Linked DNA regions of Homo sapiens. The protein of the gene in region 2 interacts with the protein of the main gene of each other region in a biochemical or structural test. Each region holds a gene or a part of one and is shown on either strand. Other genes may lie near its edges.

Region 1 (3,751 bases), 1.5 Mb from region 2:
TCATGATATAATTTGAGAGGCTTAGGCAGGGATTCTCTGCACTCAGATTTACTGACCATCTCTCATTTTCCACTACGGCTTAATGCCTTTAAAAATGTATCTGACATAATTTGACACCCAGCACTTTATAAATGAATGCTTAGCAAATATTGAGCAAAGTGTAACAGTATACGCTTTGGGGAGGGCTTGAAGGGCTAGAGTGATTTTCTCATTTGAAAATCTGCCCATTTGCCCATTTATTCTCAAACTTGAATCGTCTGCACAAGGTCACAGAATGAATTTGAAGTCAGCTGTCTGCCCAGGAACCACTCTTGCTATCCTGGCTGCAAACGCAGCAAGCTCTCTGTCTTGGCCCTCAGGGACTAAAAGACAGCACTTCTCAACAAAATGGAAATTGCTCTTAGTAGGATGAAGCTTTTTAGAGATAATGTCACAGAAAAGAGCATTTGTCTGTATTGAGTTTACAAAGTAAGGCATTGGTGGAAATAGGATTAAGATTGCTTTCTGACCCCCACGTGAGAGATTTTACCACAAATGTTTCCAACTCTAATTTCAATCCTCTCCATCTCAAGCTGGGGCTGGTTCTCTTTATTGGCTTTAAAAGGTGAACCACCATCCCCTGATTTGGTTTTTCAAATTTGGAGATCAGTTCCTTTAGGCTTGGAAAGACCTGTTTTGGAGAACCTTCTGCAGTCTGCAAAAATACAAGAAAGGAAATCACTCATTATCATGCAATTGCGTGTGAAATGTGACACTTCTCAAAGCAGTGGGTTTTCAGGGCTGCCCTTCTATGAGCTGAAAAACTGAAAACAAGTGGCTGGAGCTCACACCACTCCCAGTTCACAGAAACTCTCATTTCTAAGACCAACCTCTGACTTGAGCCACTCTGAGTAAAGAGGATTTGCAATCAAGGGATCCCAGCGCAGTCCATAGTATCAAGTGAACCCCATCCTTGGGAAGTTTACCTGGGGCAGTTCTCGCAGATACACTGTGAAGGGTACCCCTGTAAGGGCTTACGTCTGTACCTACAGGCGGGCTTTGCTATCTTAAGGGACTATCGGAAGTGGACTTCTGATGGGAATGCAAAAATGCAATTAAAAAAAATTCCAACTGTTATTTTAAGTTCAGGGGTACATGTGCAGGATGTACAGGTTTGTTACATAGGTAAACGTGTGCCGTAGTGGTTTGCTGCACAGACCATCCCATCACCCAGGTATCAAGCCCAGCATTCACTAGCTATTCTTCCTGATCCTCTCCCTCCTCCCACCCTGAGCCCTCCAACAGGCCCCTGTGTGTGTTGTTCTCCTCTGTGTGTCCATGTGTTCTTATCATTCAGCTCCCACTTACAAGTGAGAACATGCAGTATTTGGTTTTCTGTTCCTGCATTAGTTTGCTAAACATAATGGCCTCCAGCTCCATCCATGTCCCTGCAAAGGACATGATTTCATTCTTTTTTGACCTAAGCTCCTTTCTGATCCCCATGTGAGAGATTTTACCATAAATGCTTCCAACTCTAATTTCGATCCTCTCCATCTCAAGCTGGGGCTGGTTCTCTTTATTGGCTTTAAAAGGTGAACCACCAGCCTCTGATTTGGTTTTTCAAATTTGGAGAACAGTTAGGCTGCTTAGTATTCCATGGTGTATATGTACCACATTTTATTTATCCAGTCTATCACTGATGGGCATTTAGGTTGATTCCATGTCTTTAAAATATGCATTTTGTATACTTTATGAATTTAAAATACACAATTTGTATACTTGATGAATTCACAATCTCCATGTGGGCAAAACAAAACCAAAAAAGTCCCAATGTAAATAGAAAGTGGGAATGGCAACACAACTCAGTTAAGTTGTAAATAGATGTTTTCTGTTTACCAGCTATACACCACGTACTTTTTTTTTTTTTTTTTTTTTTTGAGACGGAGTCTCACTCTGTGGCCCAGGCTGGAGTGCAGTGGTGTGATCTCAGCTCACTGCAAGTTCCGCCTCCCGGGTTCATGCCATTCTCCTGCCTCAGCCTCCCAAGTAGCCGGGATTACAAGCACCATCACCATACCTGGCTAATTTTTTTTTTTTTTTTTTTTGTATTTTTAGTAGAGATGGGGTTTCACTGTGTTAGCCAGGATGGTCTCGATCTCCTGACCTCATGATCTGCCTGCCTCAGCCTCCCAAAGTACTGGGATTACAGGCGGGAGCCACCATGCCTGGCCCACCAAGCACTATTTTCTAATATAACCTTTTAGAAATAATTTTAAAATGAAAAGAATTTTCTGGCTAGGCTCAGTGGCTCATGCCTGTAATCCCAGCCCTTTGGGAGGCCAAGGTGGGTGGATCACTTGAGGTCAGGAGTTTGAGACCAGCCTGGTCAACATGGCAAAACTCCGTCTCTACTAAAAATACAAAAAATTAGCTGGGCATGGTAGCAGACGCCTGTAATCCCAGCTACTCGGGAGGTTGAGCCAGGAGAATCGCTTGAACCAGGACGCGGAAGTTGCAGTGAGCCGAGATCACGCCACTGCACTCCAGTCTGGGTGACAGCAAGACTCTGTCTTACACACCCACACACACATGAATTTTCTTCCTCTACTTTTGTGTATTTGGTTTTCTTGATCGTCACTGTGGTTTTCATATGGCCACCAAGTCAGACTAGAGAAAGGGGTTGGTGATCAGAAGGTTTTCTGATATGCGCCTGATTAACCTCTGTATTAGAGGTACAGGCTGACATCAAAGTCATCTGCAAGGAGGTTCCTTTAATGCAGTCATTTCAACAAAAGGCATCACTGCAGGCTTCTAAGCTCAAAGCTGCTCCCCAGTGAAACGCCTCTTTGTGTCTGAGTTACAAATGATTTGGATGTCTCCCTCTATTTTGTCCACACAAGAGACAAAACAGGGTACTGAGGAATTATCCAGAATTTCCCAAAGAATAAACAGAAAAAAAAGTCTTAAAATAAGTTGCTTTTTATAAGACATTTTATCTTGAAATTATTTCAGACATAGCAAAGTTGCAAAAATAATTTTTAAAAATTACCATATATTTCACCCACACCCCAATGTTAACATTTTATTATATTTGCTTTTTATTCTCTTTCCAAATATATACACATATATTGTGCATGTATATATACACATATATATAAGCTATTTTCAAAGTTAATTTGCAGACATAATATCCCTTTAAATACTTCAGTATTTCTTCAAAAGTAAGGATATTACATAACCATACTACAATGATTAAAATCAGGAAATTAACCTGGATACAGTACTATTTGTTAATCTTATTCAAAATTTGAATTTATTCAAATTTTGTCAACTGCCTCAATAATGTCCTCTATAGCAAAAGAAAAATAGTATAAGTGAGGTGTTTGGGGATCATTTTATATTCTAGTCTCTTTCAGATATTCAGAGTAAACATTAATATACTGAAGATTCTTAGAAATCTGTAGTCTCCTTAACCTTATATGTAAGTGTTTGAGAAAGATTATTTTAGGATTCTCTGTTAGCAGTTATGTTTATTATACTCTACTTCTTAAGCCAGAGAACTAAATTTAAAAGAAGCAAAATGTTTTTCTGCTTAGCTCTCAGTAAACCAGAAAAATTAAACAAACCCTAAGACTTTCAGCTATCTGATGCTTCCCACTATATTTTCGTACAACTATTGGGCACACTTGACTCCCTAAACACTCTGACCTCTTTCCACCGTCCCTTTCTAGCTCCATCTTGCATCATTGTTGAGTCTTCTAATTCAACGGAG
Region 2 (3,751 bases):
AGATTCCAAAAGTACTGGGGCAATCCAGCTCTAGTCAGGGCAAAATCATAAGATAGATAAAGTATCCTATAGGGCCCACATCCCATTTCTTTCTTCCTCTCTATTTAGCTTCATACTGACCATATTAACTCTCTTCCTCAGGCAATGCAACTCCCTTACCTCTGTCAAAACTCACCTAGCCCAAGTCCCACTCTTTGCATCAGTTAACCAAATCATCTCATATGTGATATTGTTTCTCCATGATAACAAGTGCATCTCCCTTTCCTGTTTCCCATCCAAACCCCATGCAACCCTGGCTTTTCTGAGCTGTTTCCTCTGCTTCAATTGTCCTTCTACTTTGTACCTACCTCCTAAACTCTTATTTATTCTTCAAGGCCAGTTCCCCAGTGTTCCTACCTAGAAGGAATCTTCATCTTCTTAGCTCCTTTTTTATTCTAAATGTATCTTGCCTGTTAATGACACATAGCATTTCCATCTTCCCTTATAGTTGTAATTATACATACCCATTTTCCTCTGTCTGAAAGATTCTTAAGGGTAGAATAGACATCTGTTTCATCTTTGTTTCCCCCACAAAACCTTGCATAGTTCTTGGAGCATAATAAGGGCTGGGGAAAGAGTTTATGAATAAGACCTCAAAAGCACAGGCAACAGAAGCAAAATAAACAAATGGTATTACAGCAAACTAAAAAAAAATCATGTACAGTAAAGGAAACAATTCACAGAGTGAAAAGGCAACCAATAGAATAGGAAAAAAAATTGCAAACTATGAATCCTACAGGCAACTAATATGCAGAATAGACAAGAAATTCAAACGTCACAACAGCAAAATGAACAACCCAAGCAAGGGCTTCATGAATCCGTTTAAATTAATTAATTCAACAATGCATCTCACATAACTCCTAAAAATGACTCTATTGTCAGAATTTCATGCAGGATACCAGAGAAATCACAGAGCTGTAATTCCCTTGCCTTTGGCCTCTTGCCAAGCTCCACATTTCCACAATTTAATTTTCCATCTGCAGACCTTCAGAACCAAAAGCCAGTGGCCCCAAAGCAGCATGGAACTCTCATGCACTATTTGGTTCAACCACTTTGGAAAACAGTTTGACAGCATCTGCTAGAGTTACGTACACATACTCCATGGTTCTGCCCCTAGAGATATACCCAACAGACATGCATGCACAAAAGGCTCATCACAGCATTATTATAATAGCAAAAACAAAATTGAAAGCAACCCAAAGGTTCATCAATAATAGAAAAGGTGAATAAACTATGATATAGTCATGCGATAAAATACTATACAGCCATGAAAATGATCTGCTACAAATAATAACATACATAAATCTCATAAGATGTTGAGCAAAAGTAGTCAGACACAAGAGTGCATACCGTTTGATTCCATATATACGGACAAAACAAATCTGTGATGTTAGAAGTCAGAATTGTGGCTATATTTATGGAAGACAGAGGAAGTAATGAATGGGAGAGAACATGTGGTAGACACAAGAGTGTGTTCATTTAACAATAGCTCATTGAGATGTACATTTGTAATTTTGTGTACTTTTCTGTATGTTGCACTTCAATAAGAGAGGTTTGTCTGTGAAGACAATGGCCTGGCTGGGCACAGTGGCCCACATCTGTAATCCCAGTAATTTGGGAGGCCAAGGCAAGAGGATTGCTTGAGCCCAGGAGGTCAAGACCAGCCCAGGCAGCATAGCAAAACCCCATCTCTACACAAAAATTAAAAATAAGCCAAGTGTGGTGATACATGCCTGTAGTCCCAGCTACTAAGGAGGCTGAGGCAGAAGGATTGCTTGAGCCCAGGAGGTCAAGGCTACAGTGAGCTGTGATCACATCACTGCACTCCAGCCTGGGTGATAGAGCAAGACCCTGTCTCACAAAAAAATAAAAATAAATAAATAAAAATAAAAAATTAAAAAAAAAAACAAGACATGCCCTGTCTCTCCTTGAAGTGATTTCAGTGGATTCCTTTCTGGATGGTGCTGTAGCCCAGGGTACATTGAATTCCAATCTCTTTTCTGTGTCCAGCTACTTTGCCATTCACCCTTTGTTGGAGGGGAGGTGCAATGAGGAAGAGAAGAGCAAAAACGACTCCAGCCCTTCTACAGCTTGCCTGGATCCCAGCCAAAGCAGTCGCAGTTAGACACCACTCCCTGAGAAGTGACAGTTCCAACACAATCTACGCAAACAGCTGGCAACCCTTGGAGCTAATCTATAAGGTGTCACCTGTGCCCTTTTATTGTCCAGCAGATCTCAACTCAGGCTGTAAAGCATCTGGGGATTCATAGCCTCCAGCCTGTGTGTCCTTTGGGGTTTCCTCAGAACGGACAACTGAAACCTGAATTTTGGGTCTAAAATGAATTTTAGGGCCCAGGCCTATTCCCTGGGCAATGATTTGAAGATCCCTCCTTCCCAATATGTCTAACCCAAAAAACATCCCAGGCTGCCCGTTAAGATGCCTGAAAATAATTCACTTATTCACTCAACAAACATGTTTTGAACACCTACTGCATTGGCACTGCACCAGGCACTAATCACAACTGTAGTAACAGTGACTCAGGCAATCTAGCGCAAGCTCTCTGAACAAACGGGCCCTGGACTTACTTGCCACTGAATCCTCAATAGCCCTGGTTCAGAGCTATTCAAAATATATCCAGAGAAAGAATGGGAACAGAGAGGGGGCTGCTATTGTGAAAATAAGTATCTACTGAGGGTTGACTTGTGGCAGGTACTGCTCTAGATGTTGAGGAGACAACGGTGAGCAAAACAGACAAAAGCCCTGGCCTCAAGGATCTTACAGTCTAGGGGGCTGAAGAGGAGACTGGGAGACAGAAAATGAAAAACATAAGTAAACAGGATGGAACATAAATGGAGATGAGGACTATGGAGAAAAATTAAGTGGAGAGAGAGCTAAGAGTTTGCAGAATGGCAGGCTGACATTTTCAGTGGGGAAGGCATCACTGAAAAGGAGGTATTTGAGCAAAACTCTGAGGGGTTGAGGGAAGAGGCCATGTAGCCAGCAAAGGAGCAGCATCCCAGGCAGAGAAAACTGTGGATACAACAGAGAGCGAGGTCCAGGACCAGCAGGCAACATGGCTGAAATGCTGTGAGCAAGAGGAGAGACAAAGAGGAGTGGGTCTTGGACGCCAGGTCACGCACCATTGTAAAATGCATGGCTTTTACTCTGCATGAAAGAAGAAGTCTTTGGAAGAATTTCGCAATGCTCAAGAGTTATATGCACATCTTACATAAATAGTACTCCTGTTAAATTATTCAGTAAACAAAGTGGTTTTTTAAATTTCACTGTCATCATATGACTCCTGATGGGATGCGCTGAAAAAGACACAGTATCACTTTTGTGGTATTCCTGTCAAAAATGCATATAATATCTGCTGTCAATGGGCACAGAAAAAAATTTTTTTAAAGAAAAAATAATTTTAAAAATGCATATGATGGCTAGGCATGATGGCTCACACTTGTAGTCCCACCACTTTGGGAGACTGAGGCAGGTGGATCGCCTGAGCCCGGGAGTTCAAGACCACCCTGGGCAACATGGGGAAACCCTGTATCTACAAAAAAAAAAAAAAAAATTAGCCAGGCATGGTGGCACAGACCTCTAGTTCCAGCTACCAGGGAGGCTGAGGTGGGAGGATGGCTTGAGCCTGCGAGGTCGAGGCTACAGTGAGCCGTGAGCATGCCACTGCACTCCAGTCTGGGTGAAAGAACCAGA
Region 3 (3,751 bases), on a different chromosome or scaffold from region 2:
GTTAACAGGGCATGAACTTCAGGAACCAAAATCCTGTCTCATGTCAATCAGGATGAGTTTTAGGAGAAGGTTCTAGTGGCAAGGCATCGCTGGCCACTCAGAGAGCTAAGGCAGGACACAAAGGTTTAAATGGAAACTGAAGTGTGAGAAGAGCCCCTGACCTCAAGGACCCAACCGTTACGTGGGCTTTGAATAACCAAATCACCCTGACCTGGCAGTGAGTCCCCTCTCTCCCCACCCACTCTTATCCTAAAGAATATTTGAATAGCCAAAGCAGCCCAGCCTGGCTCCCACCTCTCACCCCTAATCTCCAACATCCTTCTCTATCCTGTCTAGAGATTTCTAACCATCTCTTTATTCCTGAGCAAAATTAAGAACAAAAAAAAAAAAAAAATGAAATAAACGAAAAACAAACTAAACCTTCAGAATCATCCATGGAGACTTTGGCAAATGGTTCCTCTGCATAGAAATGAGGATGAAAGGCAGGAAATGTCAGGTCTTGGCAGCTTCACGTTCAAACCCTAGAGAAGGTTCCTGCTGACTGTGTAGCTCTGGGTAGACTGCTTGACCTCTCTGTGCCTCAGTTTTAGCCTTTTTAAAATGGGAGTGTTCAGAAATGCCCCAGCAAAGCACCTGGGGTGACGGCCAGCACCTAGGAGGTGTCCTTGATTGCTGTTTATGCTTGTGGGTGGTCAGTGTCAGAGAGGTGCTTGGGCCCAAAACCTTGGAGGAATCCTTGCGTGGACTCTCTCACGACCACTTCCAACGCATCTCACCCTTTCACCGGCTCCTCCTAGGATCTCATACTTGAACTATTCTAATCCTGCTCTCCCCACTTCTTCCCTGACCTGCTAGGGTCAATTCTCAGATGCAGAGCCAGAAGGATCCTTTTAGAACATGAATCAAATCATGTCACTCCTCTGCTCAAAATCCCTTAGTCCCTCCCTGAGCCCTCACTCTGTACCATTCCCTCATTCTGCCTCCCAAATCCCCAGAAACACATTGCCTGCCCCCAAAATAGGACTTAGAGTGAAGGCGCTCCCCAGGCCCTGGAGCTGAACCACCAGGGACCCCCTTGCCAGCTAGGCTGCAAGAAGTCACTTAGATCCTCTGGGCTCATTTCCAGTCCCATAAAAGAAGGTAACAGTATCCACCATCTAAATGTTTTTGTAAGGCTTAAACAAGATAATGTATCTCAGGCCCTTAAAACAATGATACAAAGTCAGCACTCCTTAGATTAAGCTATTGTTAAAATTACCATTATTTGTTCTGTTTCTTATCTCCTCCTTTCCCTCCAAGTCCCTGGAGGTGCCTGGAGTTGTTACTCTGTAGCTCTCAAGGTTACAGAGTAGCACTAGAGAGACCCTCCCAGGATCCAAAGAAGGAGGAGTGAGAGGCTGGTGTTCAGCCAGGGCTGTCTGTGCTTCCAGCCGGGCTCAGCCTTCTGCCAAGCTGCTCTAAATCTGTGGCTCGGTTCCCTCATCTGTAAAATGGAGGTTAAATGCCCACAAGGGGCAGCTGGGAAGACAAAAAGCTACAATGTATGCACAGCCTGCAGCATTTACCAGGGTCTCAGTTAGCATTAATCAGCCATTGGGGAAGGCATTAATCAAATGTCAACTCTATGCCAGGCACTGAGGTGGGGACTAGGATGCAAATGAGGGGAATGGGGAGGGGCCCAGGATTTGCCCTTTGCCCCCACCTCCCTCTACTGCACACCCATACCAAAGGGACCTCCTCGGTCAGCCATGCCAGCAGCAGGAGATAATTACACCTGCTCTCTGCCCATGGGGAAACAGACTAATCAACTGAGAATTCTAATGTAGTTACAAGTGCAGCAGCAGAAGCATGCACTGGGGGCACGGCGGGCAGAGAGCAGCAAGAAGGAATCCTAAATTTAATCTGGAGTGTGGCTAGGCACTTAAAGGGCTCAGAAAAAGCTTTCAGGGGAAAAAAGCAGGCATCTGAACTCAATCTTTCAAAAAAGATGAAGCAGGAGGAACTGGCTTTAAGTTTAAGCAAAGGCTAGGAGGCAGAACAGAGTATGCTAAAAAAAAACCCTGCTGAGAGTTAATGTGCATCTTACCTTATCAGGAGAAACCCAAAATGACCTCCTGATCATTAGCCAGGACAAAGGGATGAACAAGGTGCCCCCATGGTCCATTTCATCCTTGTTAAGCAGCCATTTATTGGGCCCTTCCCCAGGTGCCAAGCACCTGTTGTGTCTGGTTCGTCTCATTTATCTCAATGGGAAATACGGCAGCGGAAAACTGAAATCCCAAGAGGTCACATTACTTGATCAAAGTCATGTAGACCAGCAGCAGCACAAAGATCAAAACCCTCACCTGAGTCCCAAGCCCCTAGTCCAGAATCCTGTGGCAGCATCTGGCCAGATATTAACTGATTTGCCAGTACTTGCCACTCTCAAAAGAGGTTAAGGGACTTATCCGAGGTCACACAGATAGAAAGTAGCAAAACGAGTTAATGGGTGCAGCACACCAACATGGCACGTGTATATATATGTAACAAACCTGCACGTTGTGCACATGTACCCTAAAACTTAAAGCATAATAATAATATAATAATAAAATTTTAAAAAAGTAGCTGAAACTGGATTTGACCCAGCTGCCAACCACAGAGCTCTTCACTATGTTGACTGTTCCCAGCCATGCATCCTGGAGTTCCCCACTCCCAGGTCTCTAGGCCATAGTCCACTGGAACATAAGTAGGAAACACAAGCCCCATTATAACACCTTCAATTAGACAGAAACCAGGACAAGGGACCAGGCTCCTCAGTTCTTTCCAGCCCTCACTCTGGGAGGGCCTTGGACTTAACCTTCCCCAGGGTCCCAGTTACTTCCAGCTTCGAAGCCCAGTGGATCAACTCAGCCATAAACACCAGACTTCCATGCTGCGTCTCACCAATTGCTTTGTAATAGCTGCTCACAGGTTGCCCTAAAGGAGCAGGGGTGGAATTTACACTCTCACCTGCAGTGGCTGACACCGTTCCTTTGAAAACACTGTATCCCCTCTGATGCTGCAGGGTGGGTGTAAGGTGCAGCAGTAATGTCCATTCAACTGTTGGAGGGGCCCTTACCACTCAAGTATTTGCCTGTGCCCCATTTTAACAGAATCGTTTTGTGGGATTTTGGATGAAATCCTGTACTGGCTTAACATGCACAGAGCACTGAAGAGAAAAACTTCCTTGATTTCTGGTTTGGGGTTCTTGTATCTCACGAAATGCCCTTCTAAATAAGCTTGTGAGATACAAGAACATGAATGAGCTTATGAGATGCAATTGGAAACAGATCTTCACGGCCAAAAGATCCCTGGAGTCCACCATTCAAATCCTGCCAGCACCCAGCTCAGGTCTCCAGCGTTCCACGCTTTATCAACTATGGCAGGGAGGTCTCCAAGACCTTGAGCCCAGGAGAGAGCACCAGCCACCACAGCAACTTCCATTTTGCTTCTGCTTTTTTTGGTTTTTTCAAAAAAAGAAAAAAAAAAGCCTTGAAATCCCTTTTTTGTTCCTGTTTCCCATTCTTAATGGGTAATTCTATAAAATGACTTATTTTGTAAATACAAATATGGCTGAGTTTGAATAACTGATTTTTGCCATTTTTACATTTCATGTCCTTCTAAAGGTTTTTCTTGTATCTCATAAGCTCATTCATGTTCTTGTATCTCATAAGCTTATTTAGAAAGGCATAAAATGGGCCAGGCACGGTGGCTTATGACTGTAATTCCAGCA

The links.
Region 1: the proteins of CD244 (region 2) and SH2D1B interact in a biophysical measurement, tested with the Homo sapiens proteins (one study listed by IntAct).
Region 3: the proteins of CD244 (region 2) and PLCG2 interact in a biophysical measurement, tested with the Homo sapiens proteins (one study listed by IntAct).

What each region holds. Positions count from the first base shown.
Region 1 is NC_000001.11:162,398,394-162,402,144, forward strand, and holds part of SH2D1B (SH2 domain-containing protein 1B), read right to left. Parts: intron 695-3,751; coding exon 530-694; intron 1-529. UniProt on the Homo sapiens protein: Cytoplasmic adapter regulating receptors of the signaling lymphocytic activation molecule (SLAM) family such as CD84, SLAMF1, LY9 and CD244. In SLAM signaling seems to cooperate with SH2D1A/SAP.
Region 2 is NC_000001.11:160,856,150-160,859,900, forward strand, and holds part of CD244 (natural killer cell receptor 2B4 isoform 1 precursor), read right to left. Parts: intron 1-3,751. UniProt on the Homo sapiens protein: Heterophilic receptor of the signaling lymphocytic activation molecule (SLAM) family; its ligand is CD48.
Region 3 is NC_000016.10:81,782,140-81,785,890, reverse strand, and holds part of PLCG2 (1-phosphatidylinositol 4,5-bisphosphate phosphodiesterase gamma-2), read right to left. Parts: intron 1-3,751. UniProt on the Homo sapiens protein: The production of the second messenger molecules diacylglycerol (DAG) and inositol 1,4,5-trisphosphate (IP3) is mediated by activated phosphatidylinositol-specific phospholipase C enzymes. It is a crucial enzyme in transmembrane signaling.